Linked DNA regions of Homo sapiens. The protein of the gene in region 1 interacts with the protein of each later gene in a pairwise test. Each region holds a gene or a part of one and is shown on either strand. Other genes may lie near its edges.

Region 1 (15,073 bases):
AAGGAACACTGATAGCATCTGCCTTGGAATGTGTGCATAACACTGGAATTAAAGGAGAGACGTGGCCCTTTACCTGCAGGATTAATTTTTTACTTTTTTACTTTGTATATCCTTAGTGTAGAATGATGTCCTCCCAGAGGGGTAATAAGATGTCAGACATTTAGCTTTATTTCTTTTTTTTTTTTCTTTTAGAGTCCTTTTTTAAAATTTCAGTGTAGGTCATTGTTATTCTCTAAGAATGAGAATGCATGAAAATCTTGCTTTAGCAACTCTTGAGGTCTTTTGTGTTCTTATGCCCCAAGGCTGTGGTGTTATTACTCCCTGGAGTATTAGTTGTAGGAACTGGTTGGGGTTCCCATAGTCCAGTCCATGGGCCTGTTTGGCAGGCAGCTTGGCCCTGAGCCCTGAGGTATGCTTGATGCTTTTTTAGGCCCAGATATAGTAGGCATGTGTTCTTTCATGTGATGTGGGTTTTAAGAAAATGTTCACTTGCGTCTACGGCCATACCACCCTGAACGCGCCCGATCTCGTCTGATCTCGGAAGCTAAGCAGGGTCGGGCCTGGTTAGTACTTGGATGGGAGAAAATGTTCACTTGCGTTTTTCCTTGTCTCCTTCTTGCCCTTTCTTCTTCCCTCCACCCAAAATACTATTTTTAGTTTTTGCATTAGGTACAAGTTGTTTTTATATAGCTCTTTTTGGCTCCCCTGTAATTGGGGTCCTGAGACTGCTGTCCTGTTTGGGCTACTGTGTTATGTTCCTGTAGTTAACATCCCCACTGTTTTCTTTGTTTGTTTTTTTGTTTGTTTGTTTGTTTTTTTGAGACGGAGTTTTGCTCTTCTTGCCCAGGCTGGAGTGCAATTGTGTGATCTCGGCTCACCGCAACCTCCGCCTCCTGGGTTCAAGCAATTCTCCTGCCTCAACCTCCCGAGTAGCTGGGATTACAGGCATGCACCACAATGCCCAGCTAATTTTGTATTTTTAGTAGAGACAGGGTTTCTCCATGTTGGTCAGGCTGGTCTGGAACTCCCGACCTCAGGTGATCGCCTGCCTTGGCCTCCCAAAGTGCTGGGATTACAGGCATGAGCCACTGCGTCTGGCCCCAACATCCCCACTGTTTTCATGTGTGAGGAAGTCAGGTTGGAGTGGTGGCTGAGAGCATGAGACAGGCTCGGGTTCAAATCCAGTCTTTACCTAATTAGTTACTTAATCTCTTTAAGCTTTAGTTTCCTCATCTGTAACAATAACATTATTATGGAACATTCACTCTATGCCACACATTCTACTACATATTTACCTCCTAGGGTTATCTGAAATAGTAAAGGAGATGGATGTACTTAGGAGGTCTAGTAACCTCTGACATATGTTAATTAGTCAGTAAGTGTTAGCTGTTGTCATCAGCAGTGTGCTCATTTATGAATGTGATACCTGAAGGAAGGCTTGATGTAATAGTGAGCTATTGACAGATCTCAGCAGTCTTGTTATGAAAGAGCAGTTTCGCTAAGCTCAAGAAGGAAAGATGTTTGGCTCACATGCATAAAATGAGGTTAATTAGTAGCAGAAGGCCAATATGACATTCATAAAGCCTGTAGGGCAGCTTATCTCCTAAGTATATATATATTTTTTTTCTTAGGCCATTTTAAAGTTTGAAGGTCAAACACTGGAGGGAATATCAGAGCAAAATGATTTTTTATGATTTATTTTGTTTGTGTAACTTAGTCTTTATATGCCCTTGGGTAAACTAACCCATGATATGAATTATTTACCTTTAGTTGCAGTAGAGTGTATTGTATAGTATATGCACAGTATAGTGTATACTATAGTATAGTATATGTTATAGAATAGTGTATGTTTTAGTATATTTCCTGAAAACGTTTGGGTATGGTATAGTTGCATCACTTTCCTATTTGTGTTTTCCTCTCTACCATTTTGGAAATCCTATTATATTTAAGCAGCATCTTCAGTCTTCCTAAGAGGAAAAGCAATAGCTGTGGAAAGCGCATTTATAATGATTTGTTATGAAATCAGTGCCCTCTCCCTTATTCTTTGAAAACCTTTCATTCATTAAAAATTTGGGTGGTGGCTGAAAGTAGCAAGGAAGCGAGTGAGTGCTAAGTGCCCTAAGCTTGGAAGCTGGATTTGACGCCTGGCTCCTCAGCCTGAGTAGGACTTAAGGCAAGTTGGTGGACTTCTTTTAAGGCAAGTTGGTGGACTTCTTTTAAGGCAAGTTGGTGGACGTCTTTTACTTCACGCTCTCTTATTGTCTTTCTGTAAATAGATAGAAAAAATATTATTAAAGACTTCTCTAATCAAAACTTGCAGTCTGTAATCCTTAAGCGGAGGTTTGTTTTTGCAGTATCTGAAAAAAAAATTAGTATAAAAGTATTTATTCCTCTCAAAAGGCTGGCCAAGAACTGGCCCCTAGTCTTCTGTGATGTAAAGAAAGCATAGGAATATGATAACTCAGAGCGCTTGTGTGCTTGTCTTTATATTTCGGTGATGTCATGGCTGGGTCAGAATGCTTGGACATCAAATTGCATGTTCTTTCTCTGAGGACTTTTTAGATATTGCTCCGCTATCTTTTAATAGTGTATGTTACTATGGAGAAATCTTTGCCTGATTTTTGTTCCTGTCATTAGTGACTTGATTCTTTTTCCTTTGGCCTGGCTGCTTATAGGATTCCTTCTTTGTCCTTGAAGTCCTGTGCCTTTACTAGGATATATTTCAGTATTGATTCTTCTGAATCAGTTTTTCTTGGGACTCTGTGTACTCATTATTCTGCAGTTTTAGGTCTTTATTGTAGGAAGTTTTTTTTGGCAACTCTTTAAAATACTGCTTTTGGTTCTTTTCTGTTTTCTGTTATCCTCTTTTCTGTTATCCTCTTTTCTGTTATCCTCTTCGGTCATGCATATATTGGCTCACCTTTGTTGTCAGTATCTATCACGTTGTTTCTAGTCTTTTTAAAGCCTTGATTTTTTTTCCACGGGATCATATGTAGCCCGTACAGACTTTGAAGCCAGACTGGTTTTGAATTGTTACCTATCACTTGCTGTTTATCTGTGGGCCAATGTATTAGTCTGTTTTCACACTGCTGATAAAGACATACTTGAGACGAGGCAATTTATAAAAGAAAGAGGTTTAATGGTCTTACAGTTCTGTGTGCCTAGGGAGGCCTCACAATCATGGTGGAAGGTAAAAGGCACATCTTACATGGTGGCGGCAAGAGAGAATGAGAACCAAGCGAAACAGGGTTCCCCTTGTAAAACCATCAGATCTCGTGAGACTTATTCACTACCATGAGAACAGTACGGAAGAAACTGCCCCCATGATTCAGTTATCTCCCACTGGGTCCCTCCCACAACACATGGGAATTATGGAAGTACAATTCAAGTTGAGATTTGGGTGGGGACACAGAGCCAAACCACATCCGCTAATTACTTAAACTTCCAAGCCTCAGCTTCCTCATCTTGAAAGTGAAGACAGTAATGTGTCTACCTCACATAGTTGTTATGAAGATTTACTGAGATAAGAATTTTTTTTTGAGACAAAGTCTTGTTCTGTCGCCCAGGCTGGAGTGCAGTGGCATGGTCTCGACTCACTCTAACCTCCGCCTCCCAGGTTCAAGCAATTTTAATGCCTCAGCCTCCTGAGTAGCTGGGGTTACAGGCGCCTGCCACCACACGTGGCAAATTTTTGTATTTTCAGTAGAGACGGGGTCTCGCCACGTTGGCCGGGCTGGTCTTGAAGTCCTGACCTCAAGTGATCTGCTCGCCTTGGCCTCCCAAAGTGCTGGGATTACAGGCGTGAGCCAGCACCCCTGGTCTGAGATAAGACATTAAAAGGGCTTGGAAGAGTGTAGGATAAGTGTTCAGAACTGCCAGCTGTAGTTATTTCCATTACATTTTGCTTGATTTTCACTAGTCTATTCTTTTTATGTCTCTGACTCTGTTTTCAGCAATATCTGTTCCTTTAGCTGATTCCAATAAGGATTTCTTTTCTAAAACTGGTTTGTTATTTTTTCCATTGTTTTCCTGAGTGCTTATTTCAGAGAAGACGATTTTCCTAAATTTCTCAGACTCCATGGGGAAGTATATGTTCATTATTTCTTCCATCTTGTGGTGTGATTTGTCCAGCATTTGTTTTTCAGCTAATTGTTTGTTATGTTTCGTTGTTACTTCTTTCTTGAATATTTGTAGAGCTTTGTGGTATCTTGTGGAATGAGTACTAAACATGGCTCCTTTCTGATTATTACTTATATTTAAATGGGGCGGTTGTTTGACAGCCTGGCTATTGCCAAAGGGGTGATCTAGGGCCGTTGGAAGCAAGAATGTAATCCAGGCCTGTTAAGTCAGCTGGCTCCCCACCAGCACTCTTCCTGTGTGGATGTCTCTATCCTGGCTAGGAGGAGGCTTTGCACAGGACTGTAGGCTGCTGGTTTGGCATTTCCTTCATTGACTTTGTTTTGCCAGTTATCAATTTATTGCATCTGAACTCCAAATTCACCTTTGTTGACTGATTTGTGAAAGTGGGTCTGAGCCCTTTTAAATATCAAGTTTGTCCTGCCTTGGATATTGTCTCTCAGTCCTAGGGGACCTTTTAGAGTTCTCTTCTCATCTTTATGTTTACTCTCCTGTCATTGCTTAGTAATTTTTTTTATGTTAAACTTGTCCTCTTTGAACTATTGTTTGGCTTCTGTATCCTGACTGGGCCCAGTCAGAGTGATTATGCCCAGTTACTTTTCTAACCTGCCGTCCTGACAGTGTGCTTTTTGTGAAGATGTCAGCTTGTACTTTTCCTCATTCGGTCCTACTTGGATTTGATTCTGTGGTGTTGAATGGGGCTCATTGGTGCTTCTGTGACCCCAGACTTTGTCTTTCCAAGCAAGCAATTACTGGTTTGGCTATATTTGTGGAACAAGGGAGGTAGTATAACTTGTTGGTTAGAACAACAAATGGACTCTGCAGTCAGATGCCTGGGTTTGAATCCTGGCTTTTCTTTTGGCTAGTTGTGTGATCTTAGTCATTTTACCTCTTTAATTTTATTTTTCTTGTTGATAAAATGGGGGATAATAATAATAATAATAATATCTACCATATAAGATTGATGTGAGGATTAAATGAATTAACACATGCAAAATGCTTGGATCAGTGCCTGGGACAGTAGGCACTCAATACACTTCCAGTTGTCATCATCGTCATCATCTTATTGTTGTCATGATTATTAATTCTGTGAACTCTGCTCATTGCTGAAGATCTGCAATATATGTGCAATATATATCTGCAAGATGTATTTGCCTACTCTTACTGAGCTTTCTCAATTGAGTACAAGTTTCAGTGCATTTAGTTCATAAATTGTGGTTTGGGAATGTGGCTGTTTCCTATTTTGTGTTCTATTTTTATTTTTCTGTATTTGTTTTCCTGGTTTTAGGGAAGACAGTGTGACAGAAATGCCCACTTTTGCCATCATTAACTAGAAGCATGTAATCTTGCTAAACAGACCAATCTGACAGCAGCTTTTTTCTCAAAGAATGCTTCAAATTGTTTTTATAAATTTCTTACAGATTTTATAAATTCCTGTAGCATATGCTTCTCTTCCTCCCTGCCTGTGATAGTACATAGCATGATAAAAATGAATTTCCTTTAAACTGTTTTGCTGGGAAGTGTTTTATTAATGATTTCACTTTGACAAAGGTGCTGTTTTTAGCCTGATATGTTTGTTGCAAGGTGGAGACTGACTAGCAAGATTGAATTTGATGTCGATGCTAAATTTTTCACTTGGTGCTAAAAATCCAATTGCACAATTATAGGGTGGCTTAAGCATGTGTTCAAAATGCTTGGAAGTTTTAATTGAATCAGTAGGTGATGTGAATGCCAAGAAAGCTCTCAAGATCTTACGTTATAGAAATTGAATTGTTGTTTGCTATCTGGAGTAGGTAGGAAATAGCTCTGCCCTCCCTTTCTCTGGTCAGACTGTACCTGGGATTGTATCTAGTTCCAAGAACCATATTTTAAAAAGCACAGACATATCACATTGTGTCCAGAGGAGAATGACCAGGATGTTGAGGACACCTGAAACAATGCTTCTTTAAGTAATGGGTTGAAAGAGGTGGAGGTGTTTAAGTTGGAGCTGAGAAGAGTGGGGGAGGGCACTGGGAGATACAATACTAGCACCAGTGATGGTAATGATAATAATAGAAGCTAAAATTTATTGTGTGGCTATAAGCCAGGCACTAAGAAGCAGACATATATTATCTTATTTGATTCTCATCACAATCATATGAGCTAAAAAGAATAATTATTCCATTTCATAAATAGGGAAATTGATGCTCAATAAAGTTAAGAAATTTGAGATTACATAGTTCATAAGAGATATAGCCAGGATTTGGCTTGATGTTTGATTGTGAAGACTTGAGCTCTTAAATACCATATCATATGTCTCTTATGATTGATACCTTTGAGTGTTTGAAGGACTTACATGTGAGAGAGGGATCCCAGAAATTAAAACTAGGACAGATAATTGGCAACTTCCCAGAAAAAAATTCTTGAATCAGTGTAAAGAATTGGTTTCTAGATTGGAGGCCAGTGGATTCCCTAATACAGGTTACATTCAGGTGTTTGCTAAGTAACTGGTTGATAGGTCTTTGTAAGTAGCTAGTTGTAAGTTTGGGATAGGGGTGGGGATAGATTATGTGATCTTTAAGGTCTCTTGCTGTGCTTTCTCAAGTAACTCTAGAGTTGAGAACTCTGTGTGCTTTCCTGTTTTTCAGATATATATATATATATTTAAACATTTTAAATTGTCAAAAAATACATACACCATAAAATTTACCATCTTAACTATGTTAAGTATACAGTTCAGTATTAACTGTATATGCACCCAATCTCTAGTACTTTTTCATCTTGCAAAACTGAAACTCTATACTTACTCAGTAACAACTTTTCCTTCTACCTCCAGACCTAGGCAACAACCATTCTACTTTCTGTTTCTGTGAGTGTGACTACTCTAGATAACTCACATAAGTGGAATTACACAGTATTGCCTTTTTGTGTGTGGCTCATTTCATTTAGCGTAATGTCCTCAAGGTTCATCCATTTTGTAGCAAGTGTCAGAAGTTCCTTCCTTTTTAGAGCTGAATAATATTCCATGGTACGTACATATCACATTTTGTTTATCATGTCAGGTGTATTTTAGCTAAAAAACAAAACAAGAACAAACAATCACTTTAAAAAGCATTAGAGTTAATATTATTCTAACAACCCATGGCTCTGTATGCAAATTATTATGTGTAGAGTTATCTGGGATGGTTAGGGAATGGTGTGCCCTAATTAACCAAATAATTTGGTTCATGGAGTAGAAATACAAATTGTAGGAGATTATCTGGAACCTGTACTGACCCCATGGCATATTCTGAAAGTACTATTTTGAATTAAGTTTCTAATAATTGATTTATTTTCTTGTAATTTGTGCCCTTAAAAATCAAGTCTAATATTTATTGGGCAAAATGTATAGTTTTGAAAATAAAAATAAATAGAAATAATTTCTAGTTATTAGGATGACAGATTATTCAGTATTTTCTTTGGATTTTTTTTGAAAGTACTTAATGTTATAATTCTGTGGAATGTTCATTTTAAAAAATCTAAAATTTATTGATTTTTTTAATGTACCAAATACTAACTTTAAACATCAAAGGTTTTACTTCCAACATCTGGTATTGGGGGAACCAGCCCCCAATATTTCAACGTAGGTTCTTTCTATTTTCCTTAAGTGTTGGCCGGTCTGAGAAATAAAGAGAAAGAGTACAAAGAGAGGAATTTTATAGCTGGGCCTCTGGGGGTAACATCACATATCGGTAGGTCCGTGATGTCCCCTGAGCCACAAAACCAGCAAGTTTTTATTAGGGATTTTAAAAGGGGAGGGGGTGTAGGAACAGGGAGTAGGTCACAAAGATCACGTGCTTCAAAGGGCAATAAAGATCACAAGGCAAAGGCAAAGTTAGAATTACTGATGAGGGTCTGTGTCCTGCTGTGCACGTATTGTCTTGATAAACATCTTAACAGAAAACAGGGTTGGAGAGCAGAGAACCGGTCTGACCAAAATTTACCAGGCTGGAATTTCCCAATCCTAGTAAGCCTGAGGGTACCTGCAGGAGACCAGGGCATATTTCAGTCCTTATCTCAACCACATAAGACAGACACTCCCAGAGCGACCATTTGTAGACCTCCCCCCAGGAATGCATTCCTTCCCCAGGGTATTCCTTGCTGGGAAAATAATTCAGTGATATCTTCCCTACTTGCACATCCGTTTATAGGCTCTCTGCAAGAAGAAAAATATGGCTCTATTCTACCCGACCCCGCAGGCAGTCAGACCTTATGGTTATCTTCCCTTGTTCCCTGAAAATCGCTGTTATTCTGTTCTTTTTCAAGGTGCACTGATTTCATATTGTTCAAACACACGTTTTACAATCAATTTGTACAATAGTGGTCCTGAGGTGACGTACATTCTCAGCTTATGAAGATAACAGGATTAAGAGATTAAAGTAAAGACAGGCATAAGAAATTATAAGAGTATTAATAGGGAAGTGATAAATGTCCATGAAATCTTACAATTTGTGGTTAGAGATTGCAGTAAAGACAGGCATAAGAAATTATAAAAGTATTAATTTTGGGAACTGATAAGTGTCCATGAAATCTTCACAATTTATGTTCTTCTGCCGTGGTTCCAGCTGGTCCCTCCATTTGGGGTCCTTGCCTTCCCGCAACAATCTGGTCTCCATATAGTGTTTTATTCTTTCATTTTATTAATTGAACAAACTGAGATATAATGTATGAAATGACATCACCAAGGCCATAGTGACCCAGAGGTAGACACTAGCATTAATAATTATTCTTTTCCCCTTTTTAATTAGCTGGGTTTTGTGGTCTTTTTTATATTTCTTCTGAACAAAAGATTTAATGATAGAGTTTACATTAGTGATAGATTACTGCATAAAGTCTCCCCAAAAGAAACATTTTCTTGGTTGTTACTTGGTGGTAACATGAAATAAAGGCATAAAATCATTCAGTCATTGGCAGTGAGGCCAAGGGGTGGGTGGCTTGGGAGGAGGTGTACCTAGGCTCTTCTGTAATTTCTCTCTCAGCTATCCCAAATCAACACTGCAAGCTAAGTAAAAACAAAGTGCTTGCCATGCAAAGCACCTTCAAGACAAGTCCCCTACCTCTGTGTACTGGCTAGATCACCACCCCTCCCAGAATACTTGCTCAGAAGAGCAGTTTTTGGGGTAAACACTGTTTACTAAAAGATAGACTGAAAGGGCATTCAAATCACAGGATGGTTCTTAGAAGTGAGATTTCAATACATCTTCAGATGAACATTCAGTGTTCAACTTTCTAAGTTGTTTCCATAGAAACAGTTGGGAAGCCACAGATATTGGGCTGTGAGAAGCAGCGTATGGAGAAGAATTGTTCTAAAAGTTTACCAGGAAAGATTAGGATGTCACAGATCTAAGAAGATCTGAGGCAATATGCACATTAGGCACATGGAGAGTTGATGTGGAGCCATGATCTTTTTCTTGAGTGAGATTCAAACACATTAAGAGAGCTTTCTTTTTAAACTAAAGGCATTTTAAATTTGCTAACTTCTGCCTCCTTTTCCATTGTCTTAAACTCATGCAGGCAGTGATCCTGGAGCACTGTGCTTTTGTTTTTCCTTCCATTCCTAACCCCTGCTTCACTGGCTTCTGTTTTACAGATAGCCACCAAGGTTCAAACTTGATGTAAACCTGGATTTTTTTGTTTTAGTTTTCCGTGTTCTTCTGGGTATTTACAGTTGCCATATATTTGGTGAGGGTGTCTTCTCCCCAGTTCCCCTTGACTCTCTGTTTTTCTGTATTTTCAGGGAAGAAGAGCCCAGACCTAGGGGAGTATGATCCACTTACCCAGGCTGACAGTGATGAGAGCGAAGACGATCTGGTGCTTAACCTGCAGAAGAATGGAGGGGTCAAAAATGGGAAGAGTCCTTTGGGAGAAGCGCCAGAACCCGACTCAGATGCTGAGGTTGCAGAGGCTGCAAAGCCACATCTTTCAGAAGTCACCACGGAGGGCTACCCCTCAGAACCCCTTGGGGGCCTGGAACAGAAGGCGGCCTCCTCCCTGGTGTCATATGTGCGCACGTCTGTCTTCCTGCTGACTTTGGGGATCTCGATGATCCTGGTGCTCCTGTGTGCTTTCCTGATCCCCTGTCCTCCCAGAGATCTGCACAGCACCTGGAGCCGCCACTTGGGCTCCCAGGGAGGTGAGCTGCAGAATCTTCAGCCCTAATCCTGTGAAACTTCATGCTATGTCTGATTACATTTAAATTTTCCTCCAAATCTTAAAACTTAATATGTGTCATGCGGCATTCCCCACCCTGCCGTCCCCACTGTGTGGAGGTGGCAAGGAGATTAAGATTTGAAAGAAAACAAACACCTCCAAAAACCTGGGAATCATTGCTCTGTTGTGTCTGTTGGCATTGGTCTTTATTAGATCCAGAGAGGACAGGGCTGGTTTGCTGGATTCCTGCTGTGGAGCCAGCACTGTATCAGGGGAATGCAAAGCTGTAGGAAGGGCTATTTACAGAGAAAAGCAAGGTTCAAGGCCTGGTTGCACCAGGGATAGAGCTCTTGCAGAACCCTTTGACATTCTTTGATGATAGAGGTCTGATCTAATTTAAATTATAAAATAATTTCATTTCCTGTAAAAGATAGTTGCTATCTTTTCTTTCTTGCTCCTCATGGTTAGGGCGGTGCTGTCTGAGTAATTCCAGCTATTCTGTCTCCTTTTTGGAGTAGGCTTCTTTAAAACCTCTTGCTCTGGAATGGGACTTACATCTCACCTGTGTTGAGTAGTCCTGTCTCTTGTGAACTGGATTAAGCTATCCTCAGACCCCTGGCATCCTCTTGATCTAGAAATGTTTATCTCTGCCACTTCTCTGATCCCAGTTGAATTAGCTTCTGATGAGTTCTGTGTTCTCATCTTTAGTTTCTCTGAAGGCAAGTTTCATTTACATATATTTATATACAGTTTAAAGGTAACAAATTGTTGGTGTGTCTACCACCCAGCTTTAGAAATAGAACATCATTGAGACCTTCACAATCTCTTGTGTGTCCCTCCTGACCACATCCTCCTCTGCCCAGCAAAGGCCTCTGCTATCCTGAATTTTGTGTTGATTATTCCTTTTTCTGTAAAGTTTTACCATGTCAATATGTACCCCTAAACTGTATATTCATTACTTTTGCTGGTTTTTAAATTTTACATGAATTTAATCATGCAGTCTTCTGTGAACTGCTTTTTTTTTTTTTTTTTGCGACAGAGTCTTGCTCTGTCACCCAGGCTGGGGTGCAGTGGCATGATCTCGGCTTACTGCAGGCTTCACCTCCCGCGTTCAGGTGATTTTTGTGCCTTAGCCTCCCGTGTAGCTGGGATTGCAGGAGCTCGCCACCATGCCTGGCTAATTTTTGTATTTTCAGTAGAGACGGGGTTTTGCCATTTTGGCCAGGCTGATCTTGAACTCCTGACCTCAGGTGATCCACCCACCTCGGCCTCCCAAAGTGCTGGGATTATAGTTGTGAGCCACTGCACCCAGCCTGTGACCTGCTTCTTTGTGCCACTTAATTTTTTGAAAACAATTTATTGAGATTCATCTATATTGATGCATTATACCTGGAGTTTATTCATTTTCACTACTGTCTGATTTTTCCATGGTATGAATATCTCATGATTTATCCATTTTTCTGTTGATGAACCTTTAAGTAATGCTTCCAGTCTTTTTTTTTTTAAATAAATAAATGATGCTGCTAAGAACATTTTTGTATATGTTTCCTATTGCAGTGTATAAGAATTTATCTAAGGCATAAACCTAGGAGTAAAATTGCTGGATCATACCATAGGGTGTGTGCATGTTCATTATTAGCAGTTTATGTTAAATTATTTTCCAACATGGTTGTACCGATTTACATTTCCACTAGCAATGTGTGAATTCTCTCCAAATTTGGTGGGCATCCTCTGAGTCCACACTTTTGGGTGGTGGGGGGATGGAAGTCCAGACTCCTCACTAGGCCTCTGCTGACACCACCCCCGTGGAGAGGAGGGAGAGGGCTGCCTTGTTGATGCTAGTTGGGGTGGAACTCCTTTGGTCCTGCTAGATGAGGATGACAGTCCTTGCCCCCACCTGGCTTTCTCTGACATGACCCTGATGGTGGTGGTGGTGGTGGGGTACCTTGTTACATCCAGGAGAGGGTGGGAGCCAGGCTCCACATTCAGCCTTTGCTATATGAGTGGGTGGAGCTGGGCTGATAATTTTATCTGTTTGGTTGGAGTAGAGCAGTTATTATCTACAACTTTCCTGTCTTGCTGGACTGCACCTTTCCTGGGCTTTTGGCTAGGGAAGGCAGCCTTTTCTGGGGCTTTTTTTGTCTGTATCTGTGGTGTTTCTGGGTTGCTGGCTTTTCCAGCACCCTATCTGGGTATTATGAGGCCAAAAGAAAACCCAGGGGACTCATCACCTTGTCATTCCTTGGGTCTTGCAGTCCCTAGCTGGTCTGCTTCCTTCTCTCTGCCTTTTAGAGTTGTCTTATGTTTGTTTTATGTACAGTGTCCAGGGCTTTTCCATGCACTTAGCAGGGGGAGTAGGGAGAGGTGTGTCTACTATACCTAGTCGAGGAACTGGAGTCTGCCTGGTGTTTATAGAGCTACTGGCAACAGAGAACTGGTTTGTGGTAACTTGCTCAGGACCTTTTTGGTTTTTTATGTGTATAACAGGTGGGGACCTGTCTCCATTGGAATTGGCTGATGTGAATGGAGATGGCCTGCGTGATGTGCTTCTCTCCTTTGTGATGTCAAGGAACGGGAGTGCAGTAGGTAAGAGACGTGTTTTTTTCAAGGCTGCTACAGGGGCACTGTCAGCTAGGAGAAAACATCAGAGCTGTGTCCCAAGTGGTACTGCAGAGAAGGATCTGCAGTGAACAGAAAGTTACCATGGTTCTGGCATACATGAAAACCCTCATCAGAAAGCTTCCACATATAAATAAAGCTCAGTCTAAGAAATCGGAGGGAGTTAGAGCTGGAAGGAATTTTTAGTGGTGACCAGGCCAGTGAAGAAACTGTGATGCAGAGAGGAAGTGACTTGTCCACACACTTTGCAACGAACAGTGTTAGTCCTCGGGTTCCTTGGGTTTTCTCCTGGTTTTCCATTGCCTCTTAGATTATAGTGAACATTGACTTTATGCTACCCTCCTATCCCTGGAAGAAAACTTTTGTTCATAGACTTATACATCTTTACACAAATACCTCTTGGCCGGGTGTTTTCCTTTCCCCCTTCAGTTTACACTTGTAGACCTGCTGTCCATCCTGCTCTCTGCATGGGGAAGCTGAGCTGTATGGATGGTATCAACAGGCTTCCTTGCCTGCTGGTCTCCTTTCAATGGGGAGCACAGCTCAGGAATGGGAGGGGAGTAAGAGTGTGAGGGGAGGTATTCACTCCCCTGGCTCCCTCCCCGCCGGGGTCACTGCAGAATGGCTGCTACAGCCTTGACCCTGGGTCACAGCTCGTTTCAAGGTGGCCCTCCTATAGGACTTTCCTTTTCTGGATTCCAGTAATTGCGTCCTCTCCTTGTGTCTTTGTTGGGGAGCCTAACAGTTCTGAGGGTCTGCACTATCACTTGTGGTGTTTCTACATGCTGGCCACATCTTTGTGAATAGTCTCCTTAAGAAACCGTCCACAACTTACCCTCATTTAGGGTGCTGTTTCTGGGATCCCAGCTTTTACACATGTCAGCTGTAGAAAAAGAAAAAATGCGTTCTGATTTCAGCCTAAGTACACAAGGCTTTTGGTTGATCCTGCAGCCTCCACTACAGTGGAGTCAAACTGCAGCCTGTGAGCTGATGCAGGGACCTAGTTTGATGCTGAGGATGCCCTAGTGACTGCTTTTAAGTCGTCTAGGCCTTGGAATACATGTCTAGGTGTGTTTTAGAGAATTCTAAACCACATCTCTTACATTAGTAGGAGTGGCTTTCTGAGGCCCACATGAGATGTGGAAGCAATCTGGGTGGAGATCTGCTGTAGAGAGCATCTCCAGCCTAGGAGTAGATTTCCGTGCAATCAAAACTTGATTACACTTTTCCTGCCCGTGACTTCTGAAGTAAAAATCTTCCCCATCTACTTAGATTTAGAGATGTTTTTAGTCATTTGGTATCTTACGTAGTTTGCTTCATACCAAGACTCATAATGGCAAGGCCATGGGTTTGGACACAATATGGACCAGGCTGATTTGGCCACAGACTGTACAAATAAGGATATAGCGAACATATGGTGCTTTCTATGTGTTAATACACCATTGTCAGCACATAACGTATGAAGGAATTTATCCTTCCACACAGTCCTGTGAAGTAGACCCATTATTATCCCCCTTTTGCACATGAGGAAGGTGAGACGTTGTGAGGTTAAAGAACTTGCCCAGTCCTACTGCTGGTAAATGATAGAGCTGGGGATTCGGATCCAAGGAGTCTGGCTCTGGAGTTCATGTCCTTGACCCTCATGCCAAGCTGCTGTGCCCATAACCCACAAAGCTTTGTGCTACTGGACACAGAGGGATTGAGTTTTTTGTCTATTCACTTGTTCCTTCATTCAGCAACTGTGTGTTGATACTAACTGTGCGGCAGCCACTCTGCACCTTCTCTAGAGTTCTGATGGTTACACACAGACTGCCGAACAAGAGGAGCCTGGCTTTGGCCTCGAGAAGTCATAGTCTAGCAGGAAGGGGTAATCCATCACCATCTGGGAAAAGACGAGTCAGAGCATTGTAGGATGGAGTAGGGTCCTCCAGTAGGAAGAACCACACAGGATAGGGATCCTAGCACCTTTGAGAAGCCTGGAAGTTACCATATACCACCTCTGTTTGTCATATATATCTTCTGGCAACAGGGTCTGAAACAGCCAGCCATTGTTTGTCACTTGTTTTTAGGTTGTATATTCAATTAGTCGTGCTGAGGAATAGGTAGAAGGAAGCTCTAAAAGTTTTGTTTCCTTATCCATATTAGTTGT
Region 2 (15,073 bases), on another chromosome or scaffold:
AGGGTTGTGTCCGCTGTAGGGCATGTGGATGGTTCCTGGGTGTCTCACAGATGTGTTTTCTACAGTCGGCATCAACACCTTTGACTATCTGGGCAGCATCCTGAGTTACGTTGTCATCGCAATCCCCATTTTCAGCGGGGTCTATGGAGACCTGAGTCCCGCAGAGCTTAGCACCCTGGTCAGCAAGGTGAGACTCCCTCTTGGTCACCCCACATGCTGTCCCTCTCTGTCCTTGGCCCAGTGTCTGTGGGCTCGAGTCGAGACCTGCTTGACCTCTTCCCATCCTGTCCAGAATGCCTTTGTGTGCATCTACCTCATCAGCTGCTTCACCCAGCTCATCGACCTGTCCACGACGCTCTCAGATGTGGCTGGCTACACGCACAGGTGAGGCCGTGTCCCACCCCTCTGGCTCCTGAGCAAAGTGTGTGCTGCTGGCAGAAGTGGCTGAGTGAAAAAAGGAACAGAGACATACCATGTACTCGTGGGTGTGAGATAGGAAAAGGAGTTCACCTTCACCTGGCTCCCAGACCCTGCCTCAGATTTTCTTTTCTTGTTCAGAATTGGGCAGCTTCGGGAGACGCTTCTGGACATGTCCCTGAAGTCACAGGACTGCGAGATCCTGGGCGAGAGCGAGTGGGGCTTGGACACGTGAGTAGCGGGCTGGCAGAGCAGTAGTTGAGGCTGCAGGCTGTGGCATCACCTGGCTTGGGTTACCCTGGAGTCCTGCCCTTTCCCAGCTGGGCAGCAGAGTTGTAAGGAGTAAATGGAAATGGAATGCCAGGCACATGTAAGTTCACAGTCGATGTTGCTGTTCCGGCATCTGTTGTGTTAATTTACACCATTCCCCGGCCAGTGGAAGCAAAGTACACACACCTTCTGCCTGAGATAACAGGAATCTGCAGTGTCCTCCCCTTCCTGTGCTTCCTCCTCCCGCTGATTCCTCTCCCTGCCCCTTTCCTTGGGGCATGTCTGTCTTTGTTCCCCCACCTCACTCAGCCCCAGAGATGTCTGTATCCGTGTGTCTGCGTGGATCTGTAATATTTCTGTGCATTCAGGATTTGCTTGATCTCCACACTTTCCTTGGGCAGATTACCTAACTGTTCTGTTTCTTCATGTCTGAAAAGGAGGTCATAATGAACTTCCTTCACTTGTTGTAGGGATTAGATATCATCATCCATGGAAAGTGCTTGGACAGTGGCCACATCATAAGCTTTCAAAAATCAGTCTGAATTCCAGGGCCTACACTCAACTTGCTTTTCTTAGGAGCTAATACCTTAACTGTTGCTTCTGTTCCAAATGAAAGCTTCATGCAACCATGAGTGCAGAGGCTGGGCATGAAGGAGGGTCTGTAGGAAACTGGAATTGCTGTTCTGTGGGGAGCCAGGCATCCATGCAGAGGCAGAAACTCCAGAACCATTTAGCTTTAACCACTCCCATTCTTGTTATTAGTACTCTGGTCACACTGTGATGCCATGAAGACCCACCAGCATTAGAATTTGTTGAATACCGCTCTGCAACCTGGGCAGTTACTTAGCCACCTGATTCTTAGTGTCCTCATCTGTGATGATATTTGAGACTCATGGGCATTAGACTGAGTAAGATCAGTCCCATAAGGGGCTTTGTCCAGCCAGGCAGAGAGTAGAAGTTCCACCCCTACCCCTGTATTAATGTGCTCAGGCTGCCATGACAGAAAACCACAAACCGGCTGGCTTAAACAATAGAAATTAATTTCCTCACAATTCTGGATGCTTATGGTCCACGATCAAGTTGTCAGCAGGGTTGGTTTCTTAGGCCACTCCTTGGCTTGTAGATGGCCACCTTGTTGCTGTGTCCTCACGTGGCCTTTCCTTTATATGTGCGTGCCCCTGCCACCTCTATCTTAAGAGGACACCAGTCATATTGGATTAGGGTCCCACCCCAACAACTTCATGTTAACATCATCTCTTTAAAGACCCTGCCTCCAGCTGGGCACGGAAGCTCACGTCTATAATCCCACCACTTTGGGAGGCTGAGGTGGGCAGATCACCTGAGGTCACAAGTTCGAGACCAGACTGGCCAACATAGTGAAACCCTGTCTCTACTAAAAATATGGGCACGGTGGTGGGCACCTGTAATCCAGCTACTCAGGAGGCTGGGACAGGAAAATCGCTTGAACCCAGGAGGCGGAGGTTGCAGTGAGCTGAGATAGCTCCACTGCACTCAAGCCTGGGTGACAGCAAGACTTTCTCTCAAAAAAAAAAAAAAAAAAAAAGACCCTGCCTCCGAATGCAGTTACATTCTGAGTCACTAGGGGGCTGGACTTCAGCATGTGATTTTGGGAGGATGCAAGTCAGCCCATAATAATCCACAGGTGGTGGCTCCCGGGAGCAGTGCCTCCCCCACAGCAATACTGACCCTGCCCATCTTCCTCACGCCCCCTCTCTTCTCTGACACAGACCCCCAGGGTGGCCAGCGGCAGAGCCAGCAGACACAGCATTTCTCCTTGAGCGGGTCTCCATCTCTGCCCCCTCCTCTGACAAACCCCTAATCAAGGATCTGAGCCTAAAGATCTCCGAGGGACAGAGCCTGCTCATCACAGGCAACACGGGCACTGGCAAGACCTCCTTGCTCCGGGTTCTGGGTGGCCTCTGGACGAGTACACGGGGTGAGAGCCAGGCCCTCCCTGCCTCTGACCCAGCCTGGGCCCTAGGGGTGGGGTGAAGGCGGGGACGGTGTGGTAGAATCCATTCTTTTCTGTTGGGGAACAAGGAAGAGAGGAGACAGGCAGTTGCCTCTTCTGGGAGATCTCACAATGGAGGTTTCTGTGGGCTCTGCAGGCTCAGTGCAGATGCTGACGGACTTTGGGCCCCATGGGGTGCTATTCCTGCCACAAAAGCCATTCTTCACTGACGGGACCCTTCGGGAGCAGGTCAGTCTAGTTCAGGGGGCTCACTCCTCCCTCCTCAACCCCGCCCACCCACAGCTGGGACCTCTGGCACTGTGACAAGTCTCAGGTCCTAGAGTCAGGGCAAAAGGTGAGGTGGTGAAGTGGCCCGGGCCTGGGAACTGCTGGCTCTAAGAACCTTCTATTCACATCCATGGATTGGGCCCACTACTCATAGCAGCTCCTGAGGCAGGTAAATGGGGCAAGGACTCACGCCAAATACCACACGCGTATGTCAAACACCCAAGGTCGGATTCTGGGGCCCCTGCCCTCAGGAGGCTGTCAGACTGTTCCCCCTAAACACACTTCTGAAGGTTGTAGGGACCTTGCCCTGCTGTCTGCCGGCCAGAGCCTCTCCCATCTGACCCAGGCCAGGCGTTCCCACCTCTCCTCCTTGGGAGGTTCCAGTGGGTTCTGGAGGGAGGGTGGGCTGTGTGCAGCTCCGTCTTTTGCTCGCCCTCCTAGGTTGGTGTGGTTTTTTTCTTTTCTCAGGTGATATATCCCCTGAAGGAGGTCTACCCCGACTCAGGTGAGCTGGTCCTCCTTAGGTCATGTCCTCTCCTTCTGTCATGGTTGTCCCTGCTCTACCTGACTGTGGCCTCATCTGTGCCCTTGGGGAGAGGCTCCAGCCAGGCCGCTGATTCAAGGAAGAGGGGCTCCTCTCCTCTTCCTTTGACTGTTTTGGGGTCTGTACCCAGATCTCACCTCATTCTTTCTGTCCTTAAGGAGAGATGCCCACTGGGACAAGGAAAGTGATGCCTTCCTTCACCCACCCCTTCCCTTATGAAGATCTGCAACCTGTGGTTTCAAAGCCTTCGCCCAGCATTCTGAGGCCCCCACCCCTGCATCATCCATGATGTGCCCTGTCTATTCTTTTTTTTTTTTTTTTTTTTTTTTTTTGAGATGGAGTTTCACTCTGTCACCCAGACTGGAGTGCAGTGGTGTGATCTCGGCTCACTGCAACCTCCACCTCCCGGGTTCAAGCAATTCCCCTGCCTCAGCCTCTTCCGTAGCTGGGGCTACAGGTGCACGCCACCTTGCCTGCCTAATTTTTGTATATTTAGTAGAGACAGCGTTTCACCATGTTGGCCAGGGTGGTCTCCATCTCCTGACCTTGTGATCCACCTGCCTCGGCCTCCCAAAGTGTTGGGATTACAGGCGTGAGCCACTGTGCACAGCCTTGCCCTGTCTATTTTGACCAGCCAGGAGGCTCTGGCTTTTTGCAGAAGGCTTCTTTGTTGTGCAGGTTCTGCCGATGATGAGAGGATCTTGAGGTTCTTGGAATTGGCAGGCCTGGTAAGTGGGGAGAGGGACCCTCAGGACCCGAGCCCACCTGGGAGCACCAGCTACAGGTAGGCAGGTGCTGGCCCTGCTATGCTTGGGCCCAGGACTGGAAGTCTGAACCTGGGGTGGAGAATGGGAGTATCAGTTGACAGTGTGTGCTGTTGGCCAGGTTTAGGCACGAAGGGGGTAGTGCTCTCATTGGAGAATTTTAAAACAAGAATAGGATTGATGAAGGCGGTTTGCTTTTTACTGTCATCATGCTCCAGCAAGTCTAAACAGTGTCATTGGTAGAATATTCCTCTCTGCCTGGGGCAGACTGTCCCACAGTCCCCCGCCTTGGTATGCCACTGGGGCATATATTTGTCTTAGAGGTGTGTGTGTATGCTGGGGAGTGAGGGAGGTTCCCCATGATGGCAGGTAGCAGGGCTGGCCATTTCATGGACATCCTGCCCTCTGGGTCTGTTACAGTCCAACTTGGTGGCAAGGACAGAGGGCCTGGACCAGCAGGTGGACTGGAACTGGTAAGAAAAGAGCTTGGGTGCTCCAGAGATAGCCCCACCATAAAGACAGTGGGTTTCAGGGTCCCTGTCAAGGAATGGAACGGCTCCTGACCCCAAAGTCCAGATGTTTGGCTGGTCAGTCGGGTGCAAGTTTATGCCCTTGGGAACAGAGTTTTGCCTCACTCTGTGAGGGCTGTAGGCCTATGGTCGAAAGGGAAGGGGCTTCTGTCTCCTGGGGCTCACCTCTGTGCAGAGAAACCTCTTCCTACCCAGACCATTCTAGGTAAAAGCCAAGCTATATTCTTCCTCCTCTAGCAGTCCTCTCTCCTACCTTTCCTCAGGTATGATGTTCTGTCCCCGGGGGAGATGCAACGGCTCTCCTTTGCCCGACTCTTCTACCTGCAGCCGAAGTACGCAGGTGAGGTCTCGCCTTGTGGCTGCACATGCCATGCGCTGTCTGCACTCACGGGTGTAGCAGCATGTGTTCACAGGCACCCAGGCACACCTGTGAATGGCTGGGCTTCTCCGCATTCCCTGCTGGAGAGGACAGCAGGCCCTGCCCGTGTAAACAGTGCCTGGCATCGTCAGAGTTAACACTGAATATGCGGTACTGCCAGCTCATAAGCTTGCTTTTCTTCTGTTTTCTTTTTTCTTTTCTTTTTTTTTTTTTTTTTTTGAGACAGTCTCACTCTGTCACCCAGGCTGGGGTACAGGGGCACAGTCATGGCTCAGTGCAGCCTGGAACTCCCAGGCTTAAGTGATCCTCCCACCTCAGCCTCCTGAGTAGCTGGGACTACAAGCATGTGCCACCACACCCTGCTAATTTTTTTATTTTTATTTTTGTAGAGACAGGGTCATGCTATGTTGCCCAGGCTGGTCTGGAGTTCCTGGACTCAGGCCATCCTCCCACGTTGGCCTCCCAAAGTGCTGGGATTACAGGCATGAACCACTATGCCTAGCTCATAAGCTTTTTGCCTGGCAGCAGCTGGAGCCAGGAGCCAACATTGAAGGGTTATAATTTTATGCTCCTCTGGCTCCACCATCAAATGAATGGGCACCCATCCTCCTCTCCCACCAAGCTGTGCCTGGCAGGTGGATGGGTGTGGACTTTTCCAAAGACTGACATTCTTGCGGGGGACTGGGATTCCCTGGATTGAGTGGTCCCAGGGAGTGGCTGGTGCTTATCTATAGAAGCTGAGAGATTTCATGCAGCTGCTCACAGGCTATTCCCTTGGAGAGTCTGGCCCTCTGCTCCTCTGGCCCATCCTTCTCCCTGAGGCAGGGCTTCTGGAAGCCAGAGCAGCTTTCAGCCTCCCCTGGGTCCCAGCTGGGGTTGAGTATGGGTGGGAGGAGAAGCAGCGGCGGCAGAGGGCAGGGCTTTGATCTCTTCCTCTGTGCTCTGCCCCCTCAGTGCTTGATGAAGCCACCAGTGCCCTGACAGAGGAAGTGGAGAGCGAGCTCTATCGCATCGGCCAGCAGCTGGGGATGACGTTCATCAGTGTGGGACATCGGCAGAGCCTTGAGAAGGTACCCGTGCTCACAAGGATGGCCTGAGGAGGAGAAAGAACCCAAAGGCTCAGCCTGGCCAGGGCCAGAGGCCCCTCAAAACGGGGAGTAGCAGTAGCAGAGAGAACCGAGTGGCCTCCTCTGCCAGCGGCCAGGGCAGCCTGATCTCCATGTGGTGGTGGTCTCTTGTAGTTTCATTCCTTGGTTCTGAAACTCTGTGGAGGAGGAAGATGGGAGCTGATGAGAATCAAAGTGGAATGAAGCTCTGGCTTTTGGAAGGAGAGCCACACTGTGGCGGGTCGGCGGCCCTCAGGAGAGACCAGGAGGACTGACAGCGAAGATCGAGCTCAGGTTCGCCACATAGATCCCGTGCAGGAGCCACATGGGTCCTGTGCAGGACCCCTAGCAGTGGTGGGCTGAGCCCAGGTCTAGGTTTCTGTGGGGGACACTGAATCTCCCAGTGTTCAGTCTCCCAGGACTCTGCTGCCTCAGCCAGAGCCTCCATATGCTTGAAGTGCTGATTACCTACAAATGATTTCAGATCATGTTTGCTAAAGAGAAATCTGGAAGTGTGAGATCTGTAAGAAATGAAAGAAATGACTCTTGGAGTCAAGAGATCTGGAAATCTTTTAATCAGTTAAATTGTGCAGCAATAGATTTTTAACTTTAACTGACCATTTAAGTTTTTTAATAAGTTTTTTACAAAGAAAAGTTAAACATTAAAAAGAATTACAGCTTTCTGTCTTCTCTATCATGGAATGATCTTTTTTATTGAATCTCCAGATTTGTATTTGACAGCTTGGTGGGAAGGGAAGCACACTCTGCTGTTCTGGAATCTTATGCCCAGGGTTTTTCACTTCTCCCCACATCTCCCTTTCCACTTGCCAGTGTTGTGTAGTTAGAACCTGAACCACTAACTTCCAGGGGCCTTTGGTCTGCCCTACCTTAACCCAAATGAAAGTAAATCCCTTTCCCCTTAGCCAAAATAAGGTTGGGTTTTCTAAAAAAATAGTCTATATTAGGGAACAACAACAGCAAATTAGACAAAACCCAGAAAGCACAAAGCATGAGGTGGAGTTACTGTGCCCAAAGTCCTCACTCAGACCAGTGCCCCTCCAGTTCAGTTGTCTATGTATTACCTTCCTTACCTTCATAATTTTTGCCAGGCTTCTGTACTTCTAGTACTTGAGTTACTTAATATTTTTAAAAACAAACCTTTTAAGTTTAAATGGATTTTTAAGTGAAATTTTACACTTAACATAGATGGAAAGTAACTAAAAATAAATACAAGAAAAACCATCGGTGTTATTAACTTACGGCTAGATGCTGTTGCCTGCATAGACTCTGGGCCTGAGGCTTGTTCATTTTGTAAAAAAGAGAGGTGAGGAGTTAGACGGACTGGCACTCAACTGAGATTTTTCTCCTTAATAAAATCAGAAAGATGGAGTGAGAATTGTATTTTCTCACTGTAAAATATAAGATTATTTAACGCTTTCTTGGTACCACTTAAAAATGACTTACTCTATCCTTACTGACTTCTTCAGCTCCTAAGCCTTTTTCACAGACGCTGCTGCCGCTGCCAAGTTATTTTGTTTATTTTTATTTTTTATTATTTATTTTTGAGACAGTGTCTCACACCTCACTCTGTAGCCCAGGCTGTAATCTAGTGGCACAATCACAGCTTATTGCAGCCTTGACTTCCCGGGCTCAAGTGATCCTCCCACCACAGCCTCTCAAGTAGCTGGGACCACAGGCAGGAGCTCCTATGCCCAGCATCCAGATTATTTTGGAGACCAATTCATTCCTATCTCAGGGTCTTTGCATTTGCTGCTTCCTCTGCCTCTAACTGGTTTCCAGTGCTGTTCTGTTCTTAACACTTAGCCTTCTCCCTCACAGAAACTGCCCAAGAAAGCTACTCCTAGGGGCACACTCTGCACCTCTATCCCTCCCTCATGTCAGAGATGGAGACTACTCTTAGATGAGTCGACATAAACATGCGTGGAGGAAAATCAGGTCTTGTGTCCTTCATAGTACATTATGGACAAAATGTTTGTTTTAAATGCATCGTACATCAGCCAGGCAAATAGTTTCCCAAACTTAAGACCCATTTTGGCCACCCAGGAATCTACAGTGACCCATGTGGATGAGACATAAAGATAGCCATAGGTTTCCCATCACTCTTCTGGAGGGTTCTGGGCTGCAGGACAGGCAGAAAAGCCATCTTTTGTCATCTCTATCCACGTTGGCTTAACATGTCAATGTGTGTCTAGTAAAGGCAGCTCAAACCCAACATGTCCCAAACTGAACAAGAAGAGCTTTCCCTGGCCGGGCATAGTGGCTCATGCCTGTAATCCCAGCACTTTGGGAGGCTGAGGTGGGTGGATTGCAAGGTCAGGAGATCGAAACCATCCTGGCCAACATGGTGAAACCCCGTCTCTACTAAAAATAAAAAAATTAGCTGGGTGTGGTGGCACATGCCTGTAATCCCAGCTACTCGGGAGGCTGAGGCTGGAGAATCGCTTGAACCCAGGAGGCGGGGGTTGCAGTGAGCCGAGATCGTGCCACTGCACTCCAGCCTGGTGCCAAAGCAAGACTCTGTCTCAAAAAAAAAGAAAGCTTTCCCACTCACGCCTGTAATCCCAGCACTTTGGGAGGCCGAGGTGGGCAGATCACAAGGTCAGGAGTTCAGGACCAGCCTGGCCAATATGGTAAAACCCCATCTCTACTAAAAATACAAAAGTTAGCCGGGTGTGGTGGCAGGCGCCTGTAGTCCCAGCTACTCGGGAGGCTGAGGCAGGAGAATCATTTGAACCCAGGAGGCGGAGGTTGCAGTGAGCAGAGATTGTGCCACGGCACTCCAGCCTGGGCGACAGAGCGAGACTCCGTCTCAAAAAAAAGCTTTCCCCAGAGCCTTTTCTAGCATCTCCTCTGATGGCAAGTGGCGTTACTGTCCATCTAGCACATCACCAGGTGCTGTTGCTCTGACCCCATAAGTAAATCTTCCAGCCATTCACTTCTCTCACCTGCTTGAATCCTAGCTAGAAGCAGCTCAGAGGGAGCCAGAAAAATGAGAAAAACCACAAGGAGAATCGAGGAACAGGAGCCTGGACGGCAGCTGGACTCTGAAAAAAAGAAGTGTCAGGAGGCAGCCTGAGCCTGCCACGTAGGGGAATGTTAGTAACCAGTGGCACGGCATTCTGTGGGCTATGGGGCAGTTCTTGAAAGTGAGGGCACTTTGGTTTGCCGCACACCAGCCATGTCTGAGGCACCATTCTCAGTTCCAGGGTTACAGTGGGGAGCAAGATGGACCTGGCACCTCTGCTGGAGCTCGCGTGTTCCATGTGGTACATGGTGGGTCTGAAGGCAGAAAGCAGCAGGAAAACACTGGGCTCAACTACAAGTGGAAAACATTTACAAAATCGTATGTCTGTTGTGATACTGTAGCAGGTCTTCTTGAGCTGCCTCTAGAACTCGAGCATTCTAGCATTACCCAAAACATCAAGTCAAATACAAAACCATGGAAGACTATTACAGAATGTTACCAGATGGTTCGTGAGTGTGTAGGGAGTCCTATTTCCTGCTGCAAAGCAAACCATCTTTTTTTTTTTTTTTGAGACGGAGTTCACTCTTGTTGTCCAAACTGGAGTGCAATGGCGCAATCTCGGCTCACTGCAACCTCTGCCTCCCAGGTTCAAGCAATTCTCCCGCCTCAGCCTCCTTAGTAGCTGGGATTACAGGCATGTGCCACCATGCCCAGCTAATTTTTTTTTTTTTTTTGAGACGGAGTTGCTCTGTCCCACAGGCTGTAGTGCACTGGCGCAATCTCAGCTCACTGCCAGCTCTGCCTCCCGGGTTCACGCCATTCTTCTGCCTCAGCCTCCCAAGTAGCTGGGACTACAGGCGTCCACCACCACACCTGGCTAATTTTCTGTATTTTTAGTAGAGATGGGGTTTCACCGTGTTAGCCAGGATGGTCTCGATCTCCTGACCTCATGATTTGCCTGCCTCAGCCTCCCAAAGTGCTGGAATTACAGGCGTGAGCCACCACGCTTGGCCGTATTTTTTTTTTTAGTAGAGGCAGGGTTTCACCATGTTGGCCAGGCTGGGCTCGAACTCCTGAACTCAGGCAATCCACCTGCCTCAGCCTCCCAAAGTGCTGGGATTACAGGTGTGAGCCACTGCGCCTGGCCTGCAAACCATCTTTAAAATCCCCATTATCTTTCCCTTGGTTTCACTTCTTACACAGCAGCCTGTGTCTTCTCTCCTTCTCCTGTATCTCCCCTGCAATCCCTTTAACCCCTCCGAAAGGATTGGGTACTGGAGGGGACAACTTGGATTCCGGGACAGATTATCTCAGGAAAGACCAGGGAGGATGGAAGTGATCTTAGCTTTTGAACAAAAGTTCATGAATGCAACATCTGTGGGGCAGGCACTGCAAACAGAAGTCCTCATAAACAGCTGCCACACCTCCCCTGCATCCAGCATTTTGGAGACATTTTTTCATTTATGTATATGTGTATGTATGAGTGATGGGGTCTTTCTCTGTCGTCAGGCTGGAGTGTAGTAGCACAATCATAGCTCACTGCAGCCTCGACCTCCTGGGCTGAAGCAATTCTCCTGCCTCAGCCTCCTAAGTAGCTGGAACTATAGGTGTGCGCTAGCACGCCCAGCTAAATTTTTTTTTTTTTTTCTTTTGTGGAGATGGGGTTTCACCATGTTGCCCAAGCTGGTCTTGAACTCCTGGGCTCAAGCAGTCCTCTTGCCTCGGCCTCCCAAAGTGCTGGGATTACAGGCGTGAGCCACTGTGCCCGGCCATTTTCTTTTTTCTTTGTAGAGACGGGGCTCTCACCATGTTGCCCAAGCTGGTCTTGAACTCCTGGGCTCAAGCCGTCCTTTTGCCTCAGCCTCCCAAAGTGCTGGGATTACATGCGTGAACCACTGTGCCCTGCCCATTTTTTTCATTTAATTGTCACCACAGACCTAGCAGCAAGGAAGGCTGCAGGGCTTGGGCTATCACTGATGGGGCTGTCAGAGGTAGGGTCCTTGAGTCCTTGCAAAACAAAATGCCTGGGGGTTCTGCTAGGTGTGGAAGAAAGACAGGGACTGAGGAAGGTGAGCTGGTAACCTGGCCACACGGACCAGGCCAGTTGAGAAGGAAGCAGAGTGGGAAAGCCTCTGGGCAGAGGAAGGAGGGAGGGAGATGCTTCTCATGGGCAGAGGATAAGGAGCCCCCAAGAGACTCGGGCTGGCCACTCTGGTCATTTTGAGGGTAACAGAGACTGGAAGGTCACCAATAAGCCTCTGTTCCTGCCATAGGCCAGAGAGAGCTGTGCTGTGTGTTCTGTGTCCACAACAGAGCTGAGCTTGTCGGTCCAGGAAGCCGGAGAAACACAATGCCAGTTAGTCTCTGTAAATGCTGCCTTTCTGGAAGCACTGTCCTGTTGGTGCCAGGAGCTCCTGGCTGATGCTGTACTTGGATTTTGGGACAATGAATGTTCCTGAGCTAATCCCTGGGACAGAGAGGACCCTGTGGAGGCACATGTAATTGTTGGGACAGCCTGCCCTTGGAGAGCAAGTCAGCTGAGAGGGGGGCCAGTACCCTTGTGGGAGGCTGCAGCAATGCCCTCCTAGGGGGTGGGGAGAAGCTTAGCTAAACCCTGGCCCTGGGCATCAAGCAGGAGGACATGGGCTAGGGAACATTGACCTTGAGCCTCCAAGCAGGGTGAGGCTGGCCAGGGTGGGCCAGTGGATTTGTTCATCTGTAGGTAGGAAAGAGTCTTGAAGGTCGGAAGCCTCAGGGAAGGCTCAAGTTCAGGGCAGGACAGAGGGGTTCATTTGTTCTTAGCTCCTGGCATTCAAGGAAATCTCTCAAGGCACTAGCTGAACAGAGACCACACATGACAAGGATTACTGACTTTGCAAAAATAGTTTGGTAAAGTCACCAAACAAAGAGGCAACTACAGCCTTCAGCAATTAAAAACAGTAAACTGGGGAAGGAGGAGAAACTGATTTCTAGGGTTGCCATATTATAATATTCAAATGTCTAGGTTTCTTTTTTTTTTTTTTTTTTTTGAGACGGAGTCTTGCTCTGTCACCCAGGCTGGAGTGCAGTGGCGTGATCTCGGCTCAGTGCAACCTCTGCCTTCCAGATTCAAGCAATTCTCCTGCCTCAGCCTCCCGGGTAGCTGGGATTACAAGCGCGTGCCACCACGCCCAGCTAATTTTTGTATTTTTAATAGAGACGGGGTTTCACCATGTTGCCCAGGCTGGTCTTGAACCCCTGACCCCAGGTGATCTGCCCACCTCGGCCTCCCAAAGTGCTGGGATTACAGGCATGAGCCACCACGCCTGGCCTTCAAATGTCTAGTTTTCAATAACAAGTAGAACCTCACAAATTATACAAAGAAATAAGAAATGATGGTCCATTCAAGAGGAAAAAAGTTGACAGAACCTGTTTCTAAGGAAGCCTAGACATTTAAATGTGCTCAAAGAGCTCATGGAAAGCACGGGCAAAGAACTAAAGGAAAACAGAAAAATGAGGTACAAAATGAATATCAAGAAAGAGACAGAAATTATAAAAAGGAATTCAGGCCAGACACAGTGGCTCACGTTTGAAGTCATAGCATTTTGGGAGGCCAAGGTGGGTGGATCACCTGAGGTCAGTAGTTCAAGATCAGCCTGGCCAACATGGCAAAACCCCGTCTCTACTAAAAATACAAAAAGTTAGCTGGGTGTGGTGGTGGGCTCCTGTAATCCCAGCTACTCGGGAGGCTGAGGAGGGAGAATTGCTTGAATCTGGAAGGCAGAGGTTGCACTGAGCCAAGATCGCACCACTGCACTCCAGCCTGGGCAAAACTCCATCTAAAAAAAAAAACAAACAAACAAAAGGAATAAAGGAATCCAGTAGAGCTGGACCTGAAAAGTATAGCAACTGAAATAAAAAATTCACTAGAGGGGTTCTACAGCCGATGAGAACAAGCGGAAAAAAAAGAACCAGCGAACCTGAAGACAGGATGATTGAAAGTCTCCAGTCTAAGGAGCAGAATGAAAGAAAGTAAGCAGAATCTAAGTGATTGTGAGACACCGTCAAGTGGAACAACATCCTGAGACTGTGGGACTCTTGGAAGAAGAGAAGAGGAAGGGGAAGGAAGAATATTTGAGGAAGTAACAGCCAGAACTTCTCGAGAGTGAAAGGTAGAAAATATTTGCAAATCAGAAATCTGATAAGAGTCTAGTATCCCAAATATTTAAAGAACTCTTACAACTCAACAATAAAAAGACAATCCAATTTAAAAATGGACATTTCTCCAAAGAAGATATATAAATGGCCAACAAGCATACAAAAAGATGATCAACATCATTAGTCATGAGGGAAATGCAAATAAAAACCACAGTGAGATATTTCATACCCACTAGGGTGGCTATAATTTAAAAAACAGAAAATAACAAGTGCTGATGAGGAAATAGAAAATTGGATCTGGGCATGGTGGCCCACATCTGTAATCCCAGCACTTTGGGAGGCCAAGACGGGTGGGTCACCTGAGTTCAGGAGTTCAAGACCAGTCTGGCCAACATGGTGAAACCCTGTCTCTACTAAAAATACAAAAATTAGCACAGAGTGGTGGCACACACCTGTAGTCCCAGCTACCCGGGAGACTGAGGCATGAGAATCGCTTGAACCTGGGAGGCAGAGGTTGCAGTGAGCCAATATCGCACCACTGCACTCCAGCCTGGGCAACATAGCAAGACTCCGTCTCAAAAAAAAAAAAATTGGAACCTTTGTACATTACTGGCAGAAATGTAAAATGGTGCAGCCACTATGGAAAACATTCTGGTAGTTCCTCAAAAAGTAAAATAACTACCATATGACCTGGCAGTTCCATTCAGGCATATCTCAAAAGAACCAAGGATGGGTACCCCAACCAATACTTTTATAGGAGTGTTCATAACAGCACTATTCACAATAACCAGAAAGTGGAAACAGCTCAAAAATGTCCATCAACAGATGAACTGGCACTGGCTCTATCACTGGATTTGGTGCTGAAGCCGCTTCTAGCTCTGCAGCTGGCACTCATTCTGGCTTTAGCTTGGGGATGAGTGCTGTGGTGGGTGCTGGAGCTAGCTCCTGCTTTGTAGCTGGTGCTGGCACTGGCTCTACTGCTAGTGCTAGACTAGGTGTCAGAACTGTCTAGCTCTGGAGCTGGATCTAGGGCTGGTGCTAGAGCAGGAGCAGGCTCTAGCTTCAAAGCTGCCATTGGAGCTGACTCTAGCTCTAGAGCTGACACCAAAGCTGAATATAGCTCTGTGGCTGGCACTACAACTGGCTTAAGCTCTGGAACAGGTGATGGAGCTAGTTCTAGAGCTAGCACTGGCTTTAGCTCTGGAGGTGGTGCCAAAGCTGGCACTTCACCTGGCCTAGGCTCTGGAGCTGGTGCTAGAGCTGGCTCTAGCTTCTCATCTGGTGCTGGAGCTAGTGATGGAGCTGGCTCTAGCTGTGCTGCTGGTGCTGGAGCTGGCACTAGCTCTGGACCTAGAACTTCCTTTAGTGCCAGCGTTGGTGCTGAACCTGCTTCTGGCTCTGGAGCTGGCACTAAATCTGGCTATAGCTCACGAGTGGATGCCAGAGTTGGTGCTGGAGTAGGTGCAGAGCTGTCTGTAGCTCTAGAGCTGGAGCTAGTGCTGGTACTAATGTTGACACTGGCATAGGAGCCGGAGCAGGCTCTAGCTTTGGAGCTGACTCCAGCTTTAGAGCTGACTCTAGCTCTGGAGATAGCACTGGATCTGGAGCTGGCTCCTGAAGTTGAATGTAGCTCTGGAGTTGGCACAACAACTGGTTCTAGCTCTGGAGCTGGTGCTAGAA

What was found.
Region 2: the proteins of FAM234B (region 1) and ABCD4 interact in binary tests that used the Homo sapiens proteins (3 or more experiments, as listed by UniProt).

The regions. Positions count from the first base shown.
Region 1 is NC_000012.12:13,045,659-13,060,731, forward strand, and holds part of FAM234B (protein FAM234B), read left to right. Parts: intron 1-9,892; coding exon 9,893-10,288; intron 10,289-12,792; coding exon 12,793-12,891; intron 12,892-15,073.
Region 2 is NC_000014.9:74,277,862-74,292,934, reverse strand, and holds the end of ABCD4 (lysosomal cobalamin transporter ABCD4), read left to right. Parts: intron 1-65; coding exon 66-187; intron 188-292; coding exon 293-384; intron 385-558; coding exon 559-648; intron 649-2,435; coding exon 2,436-2,644; intron 2,645-2,816; coding exon 2,817-2,908; intron 2,909-3,415; coding exon 3,416-3,452; intron 3,453-3,649; coding exon of another isoform or gene 3,650-3,780; exon of another isoform or gene 3,781-3,823; intron 3,824-4,169; coding exon 4,170-4,219; coding exon of another isoform or gene 4,220-4,275; intron 4,276-4,675; coding exon 4,676-4,728; exon of another isoform or gene 4,729-4,731; intron 4,732-5,048; coding exon 5,049-5,125; intron 5,126-6,118; coding exon 6,119-6,234; coding exon of another isoform or gene 6,235-6,261; exon of another isoform or gene 6,262-6,405; coding exon 6,406-6,474; 3' UTR 6,475-7,666; downstream 7,667-15,073. UniProt on the Homo sapiens protein: Lysosomal membrane protein that transports cobalamin (Vitamin B12) from the lysosomal lumen to the cytosol in an ATP-dependent manner. Targeted by LMBRD1 lysosomal chaperone from the endoplasmic reticulum to the lysosomal membrane.